Linked DNA regions of Homo sapiens: region 2 is linked to region 1. A link means that fine-mapping ties the variant in region 1 to the expression of a gene that starts in the linked region. Tissue or cell type: substantia nigra. Region 1 holds a variant in brackets; the other region holds the start of a gene. All regions are shown on one strand. Distances are between the middles of the regions.

Region 1 (8,057 bases):
CCAAGCAATGGGAGATATGGAACCAGAAGCTCGAATGTGTAATTCCTAAACCTGAATTAGTTCATTGAGTCAGTCAGCCTTGTAAGCACTAGTAAGCAATTCAAGATGAAAAACTAAACATTATTTTTCTTTCATACTAAAAATTTTTCACTCTGTTCCCACAGAGAAATAGGGTCTACATCCCATGGCCTTGAATCTGGGTGGTCTCTGTGACTGTTTGGCCAGTAAAGCCATAGCAAAAGTGAAGCCAGCCCAGATTCCAAGTCTACACCTTATGAAACTGGTAGCTTTCACTTTCTGTCTCTTGGAACACTCTCTCTGGAAACACTTAGTCACTATGTAAGAAGTTCTACTACCCTAAAGCCACCCTACTAGAGAGGCCATGTGTAGACACTCCAGACAACAAGCCCAGCTGAGCCCCACTTTCTAGCCAGTGGCAGTCATGTGAGGAAAGCCATCCTGACCCTCCTGACAAGCCGACCCACCAGCTGAAAACCACTGAGTGTCCTCAGTCAATTTGAAATGGAGCGGAAGAATCACCCAGCAGAGGCATGCCCAAATGCCCAAGCAACAAGGTCCTGATATAATAAAATGATTGTTATTTTTAGCCACTAAGTTTTGGAGCAATTTGCTATGCTGCAGTAGATAATAAGAACAGAATTTGATACCTGGAAGTGGAGTGCTGCCATAACTATCTAAAACATGTGGCCATGGTTTTGGAACCAGACAATGAGCAAACGCTGCAAAGATCTTGAGGACACTGTTAATGAGAATAGAAAAACCTGAAGGAGACTTCTAGTGAATACTTAGAGGAAGATAGTACAGGAATTACTATTGGAGGCTGGAGAAAAAGTGACCCTGGTTATGAAGTGGCAGAAATTTTGACAATACTGTTGCCTGTTGTGATCTAGACAATAGAATATATACCTAATGAACTGATGGATTTGGCTGGGTTTGGATCTCTGATAGGAATGCCAGAAGTGCCAAATGATTTGTTTTATGCATGTATAATACTGTATAGAAAAAGGTGAGCTTAGAAATGAAATGTTTATTGTAGTTAAATAATTAGTTATATTATTTTGTCATATTACTATGTAATTCCTAGGAAGCAGGACTGAGATGTAATAAAAGAATGTGGACATGTGACCAGTAAGATTTCAGAAATACTACAGACTAGGGACTGCTCTTTGCTTTTCATTCTATTTTTGAATGAGAATGCCAACTGCATTTTTCTTACCTTCATCTCGACATTGTGTATTGGGGATGGAGGAGCAAATAATGTGTTTCTTTAGTCCACAGGTCGAGAGGAACCATACTTGAAGAAACATACCTGAAGGGTTTCATCCATATGTGGGCCTGATTTGGATGATAAAATCCTGCATCTTGAGCCTGATCTTGATGCTGCCTGTGTTCTGATGCCATCAGGAGTTGAGAGTCTAGGGGTTTTAGAAAGGGTGAATGTATTTTCCCATAGGCAAGGAACATAATCAATGGCCAAAATGTGCACTGTGACAGATTAAAGGTTGCTACAAATTCTCTGATACCCTTCCATTAAGAGGTAGGGCAGATATTCCCTCCCCTCAAATCTGGGTGGGCTCCATGACTTGCTTTGATCAACAGAAAACGGCAGCAGTGATGCTGGGCCAGTTGTTGGATCCAGGCCTTAAGAACCAACAACTTCCACTTAAGTTCTCTTGGAACACTGAGTCCCTGACTACCCTAATATCATGTTGGAAAGGCTACATGTAGGCACTCTAGTTGCCAGTCCCAGCCAAGACCAGCTTTTCAGCCATCCCCATCACTAAATTTGTAAATGAAGCCATCTTGGAATCTCCAGACCAGCTCATTTGGCAGCTGGGTATCATCAAGTTATCTCTGCTGACTCCACATGGAACAAAGGAATCACCCAGCTGAGCCCTATTCAAACTATTGACCAAAAAAATAGTGAGACATAATAAAATGATGTTTTAAGCCAGTAAGTTTTAGGATAATCTGTTACATAGCAAGAGATAACCAGGACACTAACTATACATGCATAGAGTAAACAGAGGTAGGCCTACTTTCCACATTGAATTGTGCTTTCTAAAGAGGTGATGATGAGTTACCTTTTTGTAAAGGTAATACATTTCAAATGTGCTAAGGATGCTTTCTCTTTTTCTTATCCATAAAACATGCAGACAATAGTCACTCTCTCCTTAGTTCATAAGAATTTTGAGAGGAACAAAGGAGATAATATATGTCAAAGGCATCTGCAAAGCATTTCTCACTAAGCAAATGTAAGACATTATTACTTTTATAGAAATTTAAGTAAAATACAGGGTTTTGTGCAATTTAAATAATCACCTAGTTTTTATCAACTTTGGAAGTTTAGCTAATCACATATCTGATTCTTCTACATACTCAGGTATTCATACACAGGTATAAAATTGCTGTCCAATAAACATAGACTTTCTTCAGTACTAAATTAAAGCAGTGCTTGTTAATAAAAAAATCAATAATACATTTTAGCACAATGTTGACATGTAACACGTATATTTTAACTCAAATATGTAAAGCACAACTGGTATTAGTTAATTCAATCAAGCATGCAACTCTTGAAGGAGGTGGGAGGATGCAGAAAACAGCTAGCTTGAAATGGAAACCACCCCTGTGCTGTCATTCTGCCTCATCTTGGTTCATGATGTTCTCATCTTTATGCACACTGTGCATAAAGGAGAGAGATAAAGGGGTGTTAAAATACTTTATTCTGTAGCACAGAATAAAGTGTTATGTAAGTACAGAAGTAGACACGTGCATTGTTTCTTGTTAGGAAACCTGAGACTGTGGAAAACTTGCTGAACTTCAGGTTACTGAACTCAAATATAATGTGATGTTTTATGCTTTTAATGATAGTTCTTCCCTCTCAGAAACTTAGCATGTATAGTCTTTGAAAGGTCTTTTCCTATATTTACTATCAAAAAGAAAGCTAAAAGCATATAAACACATGAGCACACGTGCATACAAAAAATTATCCCTTGGTAGCACTGGCAGTGTCTGCTCTTAACTCTAACCTTTCATTTAAACGGACAGTACACAGTGAATTGTCCAGTATCTCGGCTATCATGTCACGCAGTCATCTCTGCATCAGCTCCCCCTATCAATGCCTCTTTGGAGTCGGGCTCCAATCTGCAGAGCAGATAGAATTCCGAAAATCCTGAGCCCCTGTCGCTGTGAGCTTGTTTGCCAAGCACATCACAAGATGAGTGGTGAGATGCTGTTCACATATTGGCCCATTATCCCTTCAATATATGGAGCTTCAAGGATTTTCAGGGCCATATAACTGAAGAGAGTTTACCACCTACCAGAAGAAGGACCAAACTCTGACTGGAGAAATCTTGAAGGTGTAATTAACGTTTGTTTCCATCCCCCTTCAGCCAACACCTTTACTGCACTCACACCTGAGATTCAGGGAAAGTGCTAAAAAACAAAAACTTTTAGTAGAAGCTTCGAAAACATGGGCAAGACAAGACCCAGAATTCATTCTTATTTAGCATGTTGGACTGACTAAGTACATAAAAAGCAGCAGAAGTATTGAGAGCTTACCAGGTATCCTCAAAACAACCCTAAAACTAGATTATCCTCCTCATCCTACAAATGAGGAAACCAAGGAATAGGGAAATTGAGGAGCCCACTCAAGGTCACATGTCTGTCATTTATTGAAAGGAAAGAAACATCCAGCTCCTTGGACTTCAAACCTGAGCCATGTGCCTGGCCACTGAATTATACTGGGTTCTGGGTGAGGATGAGGGCAATAATGACAGCTGTCATTTATTGAAAGACAGCATAAGAGAGGAGAATCTGAGAAATTTAAGATAGGCAGAGCTCCAGTCTCAATTTCCAAATACCTCCATGACCCCAGGCAGGTTACTGAACATAGCTGAGTGTCAAGTTTTCATTTTAAGATGGGAATAATTACAACACTCACTTGTGGGGTTGGTGTGAGTTTTAATAATCTGTCAAGTGGCTGGCATTTAATAAGCACAAGAGATTAATTATTAGTAGTTACTATGTGCCAGGCACCATTCATGTATTCATGTTTCATTTAACCTAACTATAAACATAAAAGGAAAATATTATACCCATTTTACAGATACATAAACTGAGGCCTAGGATTGCCTAGAATCACATAGTTAAGTCAGGATTTGATCCCAGGCCTAAGATTCCAAAACCT[G/C]TGTTAGTTACACACCGTTATTTGGCCTCTCTCAATACACTAGCTTATGTCAACCTGTGCCACAAATGACTTTTTCAATAATCAGTTAACATGTGTCAGCTACTAATGTGGTGAGGCTGTATTGTTGAGTTAACCTATTGCTTTTCAAATTCTATTTTATGCTCTAATGCTCAGGAGAAAAAGACATTTAACTTATATGTAACTTATCTCTCTTGGGAAAATTATTGAATTTATAAATGGTAGCACTTTAAGAAAATATCAAAGATAGCTTAATTTCGAGAAAATGAGTCTGGACTAAGAATCAGGACACTTGGCTTTTGTTTTCCTTTGCTTTTCACAATTCTCCACTGACTAGCTATGTGCACTTAGACATGTCCCTTAACCTACAAATACCTCTACTTCGTTTCCATGAAGAGAGACATGAGCTTGAAGGGTATCTTCTGATTCTAAGTTGTTACTATTTAGTGCCTGCGACACATATGCACATATGCACACGCAGAATTCAAGAGCCTCTAGAGCAGTAGTTTTTCTCACTATCCAACAACATCGTTGTTGCTTAAAGAGCTGTTTCAAAGCTCAGATTTTGGGAACCTTCAGAATCTGACTTGGTTAATCAGGTTGAAGCTGGAGGATCTATATTTTGTGAACACTTCCCAGCTTCTTCAGGAGAGAAGTTAGGCCTGGTAATCACTGCTTCAGACCACTTTGCGGGTTTGGCAAAATAACCATGCCCTGAAACCACGAGGATGACCGAAGCCTGCCTCACGACCTCTGTTCCATGGAGGAAGTTCATTGATAAGGCAGAGCTGTAACGCACCAAGTTTGCATTTCTTGGCCATATATTATTACACGGTGTGTAGGTGGAAAAAAAAATTTACAGATTATTTTCCTGTAGAAAAGGGAATGCTGCCAGGGGCGGTGGCTCAGGCCTGTAATCCCAGCACTTTGGGAGGCCGAGGCGGGAGGATCACGAGGTCAGGAGATCGAGACCATCTTGGCTAACACGGTGAAACCCCTTCTCTACTAAAAATACAAAAAATTAGCCGGGCGTGGTGGCGGGCACCTGTAGTCCCAGCTACTCGGGAGGCTGAGGCAGGAGAATGGCGTGAACCCGGGAGGCGGATCTTGCAGTGAGCGGAGATCGCGCCACTGCACTCCAGCCTGGGCGACAGAGCAAGACTCCGTCTCAAAAAAAAAAAAAAAAAAAAAAAAAAAAAAAAAAAAGAAGGAAAGAAAAGAAAAGGGAATGCTGTCCTGATGGCATCAATTTTAAAACTGGAGTAAAACTCTAGAAAGCAGTAGAATTAACCTACTTATTAGTGGCATTCCTAGTATGGATAATTACATTCAACTTGAGAATCACCCAAAGTCGAGAAAAAGCATGATCAATAAGACCCAAATACATGATCAGTACATGAACACCAAACTTGTATTCTAGTAGATAGATTTAGTGAGCTGGGATCATGACATGATACCTAAACAGGTAATAAAATTGAACATGAGGGGCAAAATGTATTGAAGAGAGTCCAAAGACAAAAACAGTAATATATCTATATGAAGAAATGAGTTATAGCTATTTACCACTGTCAAACCCACCTGAAGTCAGTGTAGAAGGGATGCCACCAGTCAGAAAGGAATGGGTCATATTTTAAAGCATTAAAGCATGAATATCACCCAGACCATCATAGTAAACATGTATGTATCAAAGGACCAATGATACCATGTGTAAAGGGCTGAAGGTTATGTAGGCACAGTCCAGTGTCAACATTTCTAAAACTTAAGGATTATGCAAGCCAGCAAGTAAATGCACAAAAATCATTTGCCAATTTAAAGAGAAATTCTGTGTGTGAACCTCAGTAATTATTTTTCAGGTGCTATTTTCAAAATGGAGCTAACAACTCTGTCTACAGAATGTTTGACAATTATTAAATTATAATCTACAACCACACTCAACTCCTTGGCAGAAAAAGACATGTGAGGAAAGGGGTGAAATGGATGAGAGCAATATAGTCCTTAAAAACACCTGGACACCCTCCCATATAAGCTTCAGAAATCACAAGGATCAGGCATTCTTCGAGATCTAATCTCAAAACTTCATCAGGTGTTTATTATGTACTGTTAAGAAAAAAGCTTAATGACAAACTGAATCCTACATAGATGACTAGCTGCCTGATTGCTCTGCCCAGAGGGTCATAGGAAACATAGGGATCAAAGGGTGTATCCATGTTCATGGAAGCTGAACTCCAGTTTCACTGTCTTCTGCTTCCCTTAGGTACATTTTATTAAGTCTTCTGGGCTGAATTTGGAAATCCTTGATGTTGGAAGAAAAGCTGACCTATTTCCTTATGCTGGAGCTTTTCTGAGCTGATGTTCCTCCAAAATTACATTTTTAGACTAAAAGATAACTAACCAGCATCTTGATTTCAATCAGGAAACAATAAAATATGATGCTGTTTGGGTTATTTTCTTATCTTATTATTTGTTGGCTGGGTATTCACTTAAACCAGCCTGCCCTATATGTTAAATATCAACCTAAGTCTAAAATATTTTACCAGATGGCTTCTTAGTAAAACTCAATAAAAGTGAACAGAAGGAAAATCCAGAGCACAGGACCAGCCAAATAACCCAAATAGACTCAACCTAAGTCCTCTTCTTAGACTCATTATCACATTACAGTATCTCTTCACCAACACCAAACCCCTTCTGAGGTGACAGAGGGAGGCAAGAAAAGTTTGTGTTTTGTGTTATATTTATTTCCTTTGAAGTCATAAGCCACATATCATCTCCTTTTCAAAATCAAATACTCCTGACTTCCTCCATCATTCCTTTCTCTAATGTTCAGAGGGCTCTTCGTCTATCCCCATCTTCCCTAAGCCCAGATAAACTTAAGCTTGTTCACTGTCTCAACTGTCGCTCATAAAATATATAATACAGTAGAAAGAGTACTGTTTGGGCAGGAGATCTGAGTTCTAGGTCTAATCCTGCCACTTGCTAGTTTTGGGACCTACAACAAGTCTTAAACTATTCAAGGCTTCAGTGGCTTTATTACTGTAATAATGCATTTGGAAGGGTTGCTATTGAGGATCTAAAATTTTCTAGCTACATTTTCTATAATTGTAGCACTATTGGCTAGCTCCTGAAATTAAGCAAAGATCTCAGGGTTGTCCTATGGCAAATACCTGAAAATGAAATTATTTTTTATGAGCACAGATAATTTTTAAAAAAGCTGATATATGCTAATTTTATTATTTAACAAAGTAAGAAGTCAAGAGATTGTTTCATTCTTGGCACGATTCGAGAAATGTGGGATTATGTATGTTAATTAAAATTTTATGTAAATACAAACACTCCAATCATCATAAGAGGAAAAAGAACAAAGAAAGCCTAGTTCATATATCAAAAGAAAGAAAAAAGGCAGCCACAAAGAAGCAGAGACAGAGAGACAGAGAAAGCATAAAAAAAGATTAAAAAGGATGATATGAGTTAAAAAGCTTCTGCACAGCAAAGGATACAATCAACACAGTGAAGAGACAACTCATAGAATGGGAGTAAATATTTGCAAACTACCTCCTCTAACAAGGGATTAATCACCAGAATATATAAGGATCTCAAACAACTCCATAGGAAAAAATCCGATAATCCAATCAAAAATGGGCAAAAGATTTTAATAGACATTTCTCAAAAGAAGACATACAAATAAATGGCAAACAGGCATATGAAAGGTGCTCAACGTCATTGGTGATCAGAGATGCAAATCAAAACTGCAATGAGATATCAACCCACCTCAGTTAAAATGGCTTATATCCAAAAGACAGGCAATAACAAACGCTGGCAATGATGTGGAGAA
Region 2 (8,057 bases), 750 kb before region 1:
CTCTTACATGTTTCATAGCTGGATTGCTGCAACAGCCTCCTAACGGTCCTTTCTCCAGTTTTGCTCCCATCCAATCCAGAGTAATACTCTGGAGGGAAAGATCATAGTTATACTGGCCACTAGATTCTAAATATTTTCTATAGGTAAGTTTGAAAATTAGGCACCAAGCTTCCTGACAACCAAGACAAAATTGAAGGAAAAGTAATCTTCATACTTCTTAATGCTTGTTCTAATTCTAACACTCTAAACCAAATTTCTCAGGAGGAGATTTATAAAGGAAGCAATAAATGATGTAATGAGCAATGGCTCAACAACATTCCTATGATATATCCTATAATTTCATTTGGCAAGTATTTATGGAGTACTTACTACAAGCCAGGCACTGTGCTCACCACTGGGGAAAAAAATGTGAATGTGGTTGTTTCTTATCTAATCTCATTATTAAAACTGAGTTTTTACATAATATTAAATGCAATCCTCTGAAGACAATTTGGCTGGGAAAGGGCTTATTTCCCGAGCCATCCCTGCCTGGTAGTTTAAAACCAGGGTCAAAATAACAGCTACTCAGTGTTCCCCTGCTTCCTGCAACCACCCTAACACCCCCACCCACACGGTCCTACCCTGGGTCAGGACTTCCAGTCTCTCTCTTTCTCTCTCTCTCTCTCTCTCTCTTTTTTTTTTTTTTTTTTTTTTTGAGATGGAATCTCACTTTGCCGCCCAGGCTGGAGGGCAGTGGTGCAATCTCGGCTCACTACAACCTCTGCCCCCAGGTTCAAGCGATTCTCCTGCCTCAGCCTCTCGAGTAGCTGGGATTACAGATGTGTGCCACCACACCCGGCTAATTTTTGTATTTTTGGTAGAGACAGCGTTTCACCATGTTGCCCAGGATGGTTTCAAACTCCTGACCTCAGGTGATCTGCCTGCTTTAGCCTCCCAAAGTGCTGGGATTACAGGCGTGAGCCACCGCGCCCGGCCCAGCCTCTTTTAAATTGCAGCTCACTGCCACTACTATCACACACAAAATACATCTGGACTCCCCATGGTTTGTCTCACATGTGTTGACAAACAGTGCTTTTAACAACCACATGAAATCAGCTATTTTCCACCCTCACTCTGGTTTCTTTTGGAGATCTGCTGCTAAGTTGTTCCCCACACTTCCCCACACTCCCCCTCCAACAGGACACATGAGCCCTGACAGGACCATTGCTGTATTAGTCCGTTTTCACACTGCTATAAAGATACTACAATTTATAAACAAAGGAGTAAATTTACTCACAGTTCTGCATGGCTGAGGACAGGGGGAGGCCTCAGGAAACTTATAATCATGGCAGAAGGGGAAGCAGGCACCTTTTTCACAAGTTGGCAGACCAGAGAGGAGAAAGAAGGAGGAATTTCCAAAAACTTATAAAACCATCAGATCTCCTGTGTGGAGAGAGAGATCCTTCTTTCTCTTCTTATAAAGCCATCAATCCTACTGGATTAGGACCTCACATTTATATCTTCACTTAACCAAAATTGCTACTGGAAAGGGGTCCTGATCCAGACTCCAAGAGAGAGTTCTTGGACCTCGGGCAAGAAAGAATTTGGGGCGAGTCCATAAAGTGAAAGCAAGTTTATTAGAGAAAAAGAGAAACAAAAGAATGGCTACTCCATAGACAGAGCAGGGGCATGGGCTGCTCAACTGAAAATACTTATGGTTATTTCTTAATTATATGCCAAACAAGGGGTGGATTATTCATGAATTTTCTGGGAAAGGAGTGGGATTTCCTGGAACTGAGGGTTCCTCCCCACTTTAGGCCATATAGGGTAACTGCTGGCCCCGACATTCGTAAATTGTCATAGTGCTGATGGGAGTGTCTTTTAGCATGCTAATGCATTATAATTAACGTAAAATGAGCAGTGAGTTTGACCATAGGTCACTTCCATCAACATCTTGCATTTGGTTGGTGTTGGCCAGCTTCTTTACCACTTCCTGTTTTATCAGCAGGGTCTTTTTGACTGGTTTCTTGTGATACCAGTCCTGCTGACCTCCCCCCTCATCCTGTGACTGAGAATGCCTAACCTCCTGGGAATGCAGCCCAGTAGGTCTCAGCCTCATTTTACCCAGCCGCTATTCAAGATGGAGTCACTATGGTTCAAATGCCTCTGACAGAATCACCTTCTAAAAGTCCTATGTCCAAATGCAGTCACTTAGTGGGTACGAATTTGGCGGGGGACACAACTGAGTCCATAGCAAACAGTATTCGATTTTTAATCACATCAGCACACACAATAAGACTCTGAAAAGTGAGTCCCTTGGCTGGGCTAGGGAGAAAATTGTGACAATATGTAGTGTTCCAAAATGACCCTCCTCCCTGCATCAGGGAGGGGAGCACTCAGAACCTTCCAGCTTGGTGAACAGAATTTGTTCTCAGGCCAGGAGCCATGCTCTGTAAGTATGTTGTCTTTACATCTGGCCCAGTTTGATCTTTGGAGATAGACACATAGTGGGTCCCAGATTGTGTCCTGTTGCAAAGATCTGGAAACACAGGCTTGGGATACCTGTATATCAACAGAAACCAGACTAGCAGGTGGTAAGGCTGGCATTGTTCTGTGTTCTTAGGTTTTTTTTTGTTTTTTTTTTGTAGACGGAGTCTTGCGCTGTTGCCCAAGCTGGAGTCGTGTGGCGCGATCTCGGCTCACTGCAAGCTCCGCCTCCCGGGTTCACGCCATTCTCCTGCCTCAGCCTCCTGAGTAGCTGGGACTACAGGTGCCCGCCACCACGCCTGGCTAATTTTTTTTTTTTTTTTTTTTTGTATTTTTAGTAGAGACGTGGTTTCACCGTGTTAGCCAGGATGGTCTCGATCTCCTGACCTCATGATCTACCCGCCTCGGCCTCCCAAAGTGCTGGGATTACAGGCGTGAGCCATGGCGCCTCTTAGGTTCTTAATCACTGGGACACCCACAGGCAAGGCCTGGCTTTTTCCACAAGAAGTATTCTGGATGGAAGTAAACACATCAGTGACCTGAAAGTTCTACATGATTACAATGACTTAAGCTTGAGAATTTTTTTAAAAACAGAGAAGGGAGTAGTAAATGACTAAATATAAAGCACCTAGTGCTGTGTTTCGCAAATGGCAATCACTCGGCAGGTGTCTCAGCTCCTCGCTGCAGCAACCAGGCTTCCAGGACTGGAAGGAAGTCTTCTACATTCAAAACTAGACTCAAACTACTCCCCTCCACCACCCAGTTCTACTCCTGCGCTCGCGATCCTCCTGCCTGGCAAACTCCATGGCCCGACAGATTCACTACCACTCCACTGCCGGACCAGGCACGTCCGTGGGCCATCCACGCCTGGAAAACGGCTGGCTGGGCCGGAGGGGCGAGGCCCGCAGGCGAGGGGGGCGGGTACAAGCCACTTCTTGGGAGCCGCGGTACGCGCAGCCTTGTGGGAGTTGTAGTTTCCGCAGCTCTGAGTCTCCAGGCGAGGTGTCACCACAGGACTCGTTTTCCCGTGCTCCTGTGCGCGGGTCCACTTGGGACGGGTCCCTGAGTAGGTGAGGAGGTGGGTAGGAGCTTGCTTATAGAAAAGTGGAATCGAGTAGTCCTTGCTGGTGGAGCCGCTGCCGCCAGGGAACTCAGGGCCGGCTCCTGTTCCTTCAAGAGTGCTGGAGGCCAAACTTGAAATACAAGTTTAATGTTCCTCGTCGGGCAAAAGATAAGGATCCGATCTCCCCCGGCCCGGTGTGCAGCAGGAGCGACCAACCCCGACCCGGGTTAAAACTCCCAGGGACTCTTCGCTGCTGCCACCTCTTGTTCTCTCCCCCGTTCCCACTCGGGGTCTCCCTCAGGGCCGGGAGGCACAGCGGTCCCTGCTTGCTGAAGGGCTGGATGTACGCATCCGCAGGTTCCCGCGGACTTGGGGGCGCCCGCTGAGCCCCGGCGCCCGCAGAAGACTTGTGTTTGCCTCCTGCAGCCTCAACCCGGAGGGCAGCGAGGGCCTACCACCATGATCACTGGTGTGTTCAGCATGCGCTTGTGGACCCCAGTGGGCGTCCTGACCTCGCTGGCGTACTGCCTGCACCAGCGGCGGGTGGCCCTGGCCGAGCTGCAGGAGGCCGATGGCCAGTGTCCGGTCGACCGCAGCCTGCTGAAGTTGAAAATGGTGCAGGTCGTGTTTCGACACGGGGCTCGGAGTCCTCTCAAGCCGCTCCCGCTGGAGGAGCAGGTGAGAGGTCGGCCCGGGCTGGGGCTGGTGGGGCGAGGACCGTGTGCCAGGCCAGGAGTCTCGCCCTGACACACATCTTCAGAGCTTTACTCGCGCGGAGCGGGGCTCGGGTTGGGTCCAGAAGAAGGGAAAACAGCAGTAGCCAGTGACTCCCCAGGCTCTTGAGCAAAGGACCTGCTGGGGTTAGGACAGCCCCGGAACTTCCAGTTTTGCCCTGATGGCGCAGCCATCAGTAAGCGCTGCTTAAGACGCATGGGAGTCGCCTGGGGATCCTGCTACGTTGCAGATTCTGATTCAGCAGGTGTGGAGTAGTGCCCCAGGTCAGCATTTCTATTAAGGGTCTAGGTGAACTTGAATACAAGGGTGCAGTGCACTTCTGTGTGACCATTTTGAAGGTGGTTTGTCAGAGCTGAAGGGCTGAAGGGACTTTAGTGATAGGAACCACTCTTAACTGAGATTACAGTGGATAAGAGGTCGTTGCCTTTGGAAACAAACTTTATAACTGCTTTTTCTCAGGGTTTGCTGGAGGCCATTTGAGATCTCCTGAAGTTTTTTTTTGTAACAAGTGTTGTATTCTAGGGTTCTCCTTTTCTATTTAAGGTTACTAAACCTATAGTGGGAGGGATCTGAGGTCGGAACAAATTTAAAATGGGCTAGTCTGTGGCAGTAATGTTTTAAAAATCTGTCTGGTTTTGTCAGGATAATTATGACTAAAGCACAAATAGTTTAAAAAAAAATGATTATCTTTCCTGGATGTGACTTTTTATAGCAGAAAGGCCTAGTGAAGAGGAACAGGCAACCTGAAATCCCCAAACTCCCAGGTATTACACCTGTGGAGTGCTTTTGTATCGTTGGTCTTCCAGGTTGATGTTGGAGGAGGTCGAAAAGATTGTCCAAAATTGATGTTAGGTATACTCTTCATAATAACAGTTGCTTTCTAGAAACCTTCAGGATTGTGTCTTTACATTGTACAACTGGAAACCCATTTTTCAAGGTTGGCCGCACATGAAATTAAACTTCTAAAGCATTTTCCACATAAATAAATACATTTGGAAGGCACTTAATTCTATTACCAGGTTTCTAGTTAGCCTTACTCTGGCTTTACCACTTGCTCTCTGGAACCGGGATTTCTTCTTTCATTTTGATTCTTTGATTTTTTTTTCAGTCTCTTACTTTGCCTTTTTATATTAGATCACTAAATTTTCCTTATGATTTTGTATACAGCCCATCTCTGATGCTCCCCTTCCCCCAATTCTTCTCTATTTATTCTTGGTACAGAAGGACTGGGGAATCACATGTAGGAATATATATTATATTCACGTAGAAGACAAAAAATTATCAGTGGTAATGGAGAGTAAAACTTTGAATGTGTAGGCCTAGACCTAGTATGTACCATATATATATATATATATATCCTGAAGGCACTAGGAAAAGATTTAGATTCTTTTAGGGCTTTATCCCTAAGGGAGAGTGGGTGTGTGATGGATATCTTCTGCCTTTATGGTTGAAAGGTCCGTTGTAGCTTAGGATACCAGCTTCATTCATCTTCAATCTGTGTAGCCACAAAATAGCATCTGAATCCATGGCCTGACTTTGCAATTAGAGAAGGCATATTACCTCTCCTTTCTGCTCATATTCTCCAGACTTTAGACAGATGCTTTAAACGTCTTCGGCTCTCTAGTATAAAGTTGTGTGCATGAAAATCAGGGGTGAACCAACTCTCTTTCAATTTAGGCTATGAGCAAATATTAGCCTCTTAAAACTTGTTTCTGGATAGTCTCTGTCCAGTGTTCATTTCAAGATCCAATTTGATAGAGGTTGTTATTGGGATTTTTTTTTTTGAGACAGAATCTTGTTCTGTTGCAAGGCTGGAGTGCAGTGACGCGATCTCGGCTCACCGCAACCTCCGCCTCTCGGGTTTAAGCAATTCTCTTGCCTCAGCCTCCCGAGTAGCTGAGACTATAGGTGCACACCACCAGGCCCGACTAATTTTTGTATTTTTACTAGAGACGAGGTTTCATCATGTTGGCCAGGATGGTCTCGATATCTTGATCTCATGATCCGCCTGCTTCAAGTCTCCCAAAGTGCTGGGATTACAGGCGTGAGCCAGCACCCGGCCGTTATTGGGATTTTTTAATCTTCTTGGTTCTGCTATTAATTATAGTCAGAAGGGACTGCCTGGCAAAAATTTTTTGTCTTTGGTACATGTTTCCTGATTTCTGACTGGTTTATAGATTAATATATGTGACAAGTCACTTCATTCAGCCATCTCACAAATTCTCAGAAAGTAGCATGATTTAAAACTAGATGTTTTGGCTGGGTGTGGTGGCTCATGCCTGTAATCCCAGCACTTTGGGAGGCTGAGGCAGGTGGATCAAGAGGTCAGGAGTTCGAGATCAGCCCGGCCAAAATGGTGAAACCCCATCTCTACTAAAAATACAAAAATTAGCCCGGTGTGGTGGTGGGCGCCTGTAATCCCAGCTACTCGGGAGGCTGAGGCAGGAGAATTGCTTGAACCCGGGAGGCGGAGGTTGCAGTGAGCCAAGATTGGGTCACTGCACTCTACCCTGGGTGATAGAGCAAGACTCCATCTCAAAAACAAAAACAAAAAACTAGTGTTTTATTGGGTTGTTTTCTTATGGCTTGAATGGCTGTTGGTTTAACCTGTTTTGCTAAAAGATTGTGCTTTGGAAATAAAAATATAGAACTTGATTGGCCATTTTTTTTCCTGATCATTAGAGCAGATCCAAATGCACTATCAAAAGAAAAGATTTGGCACTGCTTCCAGGCTTCCCTCAACTCCCCTGGGTGTCAAGATGGCCTCCACCCAGGGAGATTCCTCAGTTTTTATAAAATAAAGTCCAACCTACCCCAGCTTCACTGTTGATTAAGACATTTGGGTCCCTATTTATTTGACAATATAGATGAGCTGGGAAGCATAATGTAAGAATCTTTTATTGCTTAGTACCTTTCCAAAACTCAGCTAAAAGAAGCGGTATTCAAGAAGCATTACATGAGGTCCACCCATTCTTCAGGATCGATGGTTCTTAACCGTGGTGAACATTGGAGTCAACTGGAAAGCTTTAAAAAATACACATGCCAGGGTCTCCCTCCGAAGGATTCTAATTTAATTGGTCCGGGGTATCCAGATAATGTAAAAGACTCTCTGGTGAAGCTTGAGAATTATCTGGACTGAAGAGCATTAAAAAAGTGGAGGCCCCACTTTTTTGGGGGATAATCCAAATGCGGTTATCCCAGGTTGGGACTCAGGCATCAGTAACTTTTAAAAAATGTCCTGGTAATACCAGTATACAGACAAGGTTTAATATGATTGCTTTATTTTAAAATCTACACCTGGGAGGTTTTTGTTTACTTTTATGTAGATTTGTTCTTTTACCTGGAATGTAGTATATCAATCCCAGTACAGAATTGCCTTCGCTGAAATGTGCTTTGGTAAGAGGTTATCTTTCTGTGTTGAGAGAACTAGGAGAAACAATCCCACAGAACTCATTGCTGTGACTGCTGAAAAGATGTTCATTATATTACTCTATCCTCTTTATGAGGACCCTTGGGAGGAATTTGTCTGTTAGCATTAGGAATGGTGTGCTTCTCCTGAACAATTGGCTTGCTTTTTTCTTTAAACTAGTCTAGCTGATCAAGTTTGTTTCTTTATGTAAAAGTCAGGAAGCTGGGTGCCAAGTCTGTGGCCCACCTATAGTAAGTAAACAGATCTTCATGGTGTACATATTTTAGTAACCGTGTTACTGCATCCATTTCTTTGTCCCTACATTTGTTTGCTTTTGTCTTTCTTGCCTACTTTGAATTGGTTGTCTTACTATATTTTAATTTT

What was found. PIP is the estimated chance that this variant, and not a neighbour inherited with it, causes the effect.
Region 2: it holds the start of ACP6, and the variant in region 1 is fine-mapped to the expression of ACP6 in substantia nigra (GTEx, PIP above 0.99).

The regions. Positions count from the first base shown.
Region 1 is chr1:146,918,903-146,926,959 of GRCh38, reverse strand. No RefSeq gene overlaps it. Among named protein-coding and RNA genes, the nearest start is that of NBPF12, 15 kb to the left of the region's middle. The variant G/C (reference allele first, on the strand shown) is at 4,211.
Region 2 is chr1:147,665,980-147,674,036 of GRCh38, reverse strand. ACP6 (acid phosphatase 6, lysophosphatidic) reads left to right here and starts at 3,513. Exons shown (of 10, transcript NM_016361.5): 1 at 3,513-4,207. The coding sequence starts at 3,989. RefSeq lists enhancers at 3,051-3,120, 3,561-3,810, 4,451-4,510, 3,722-4,665.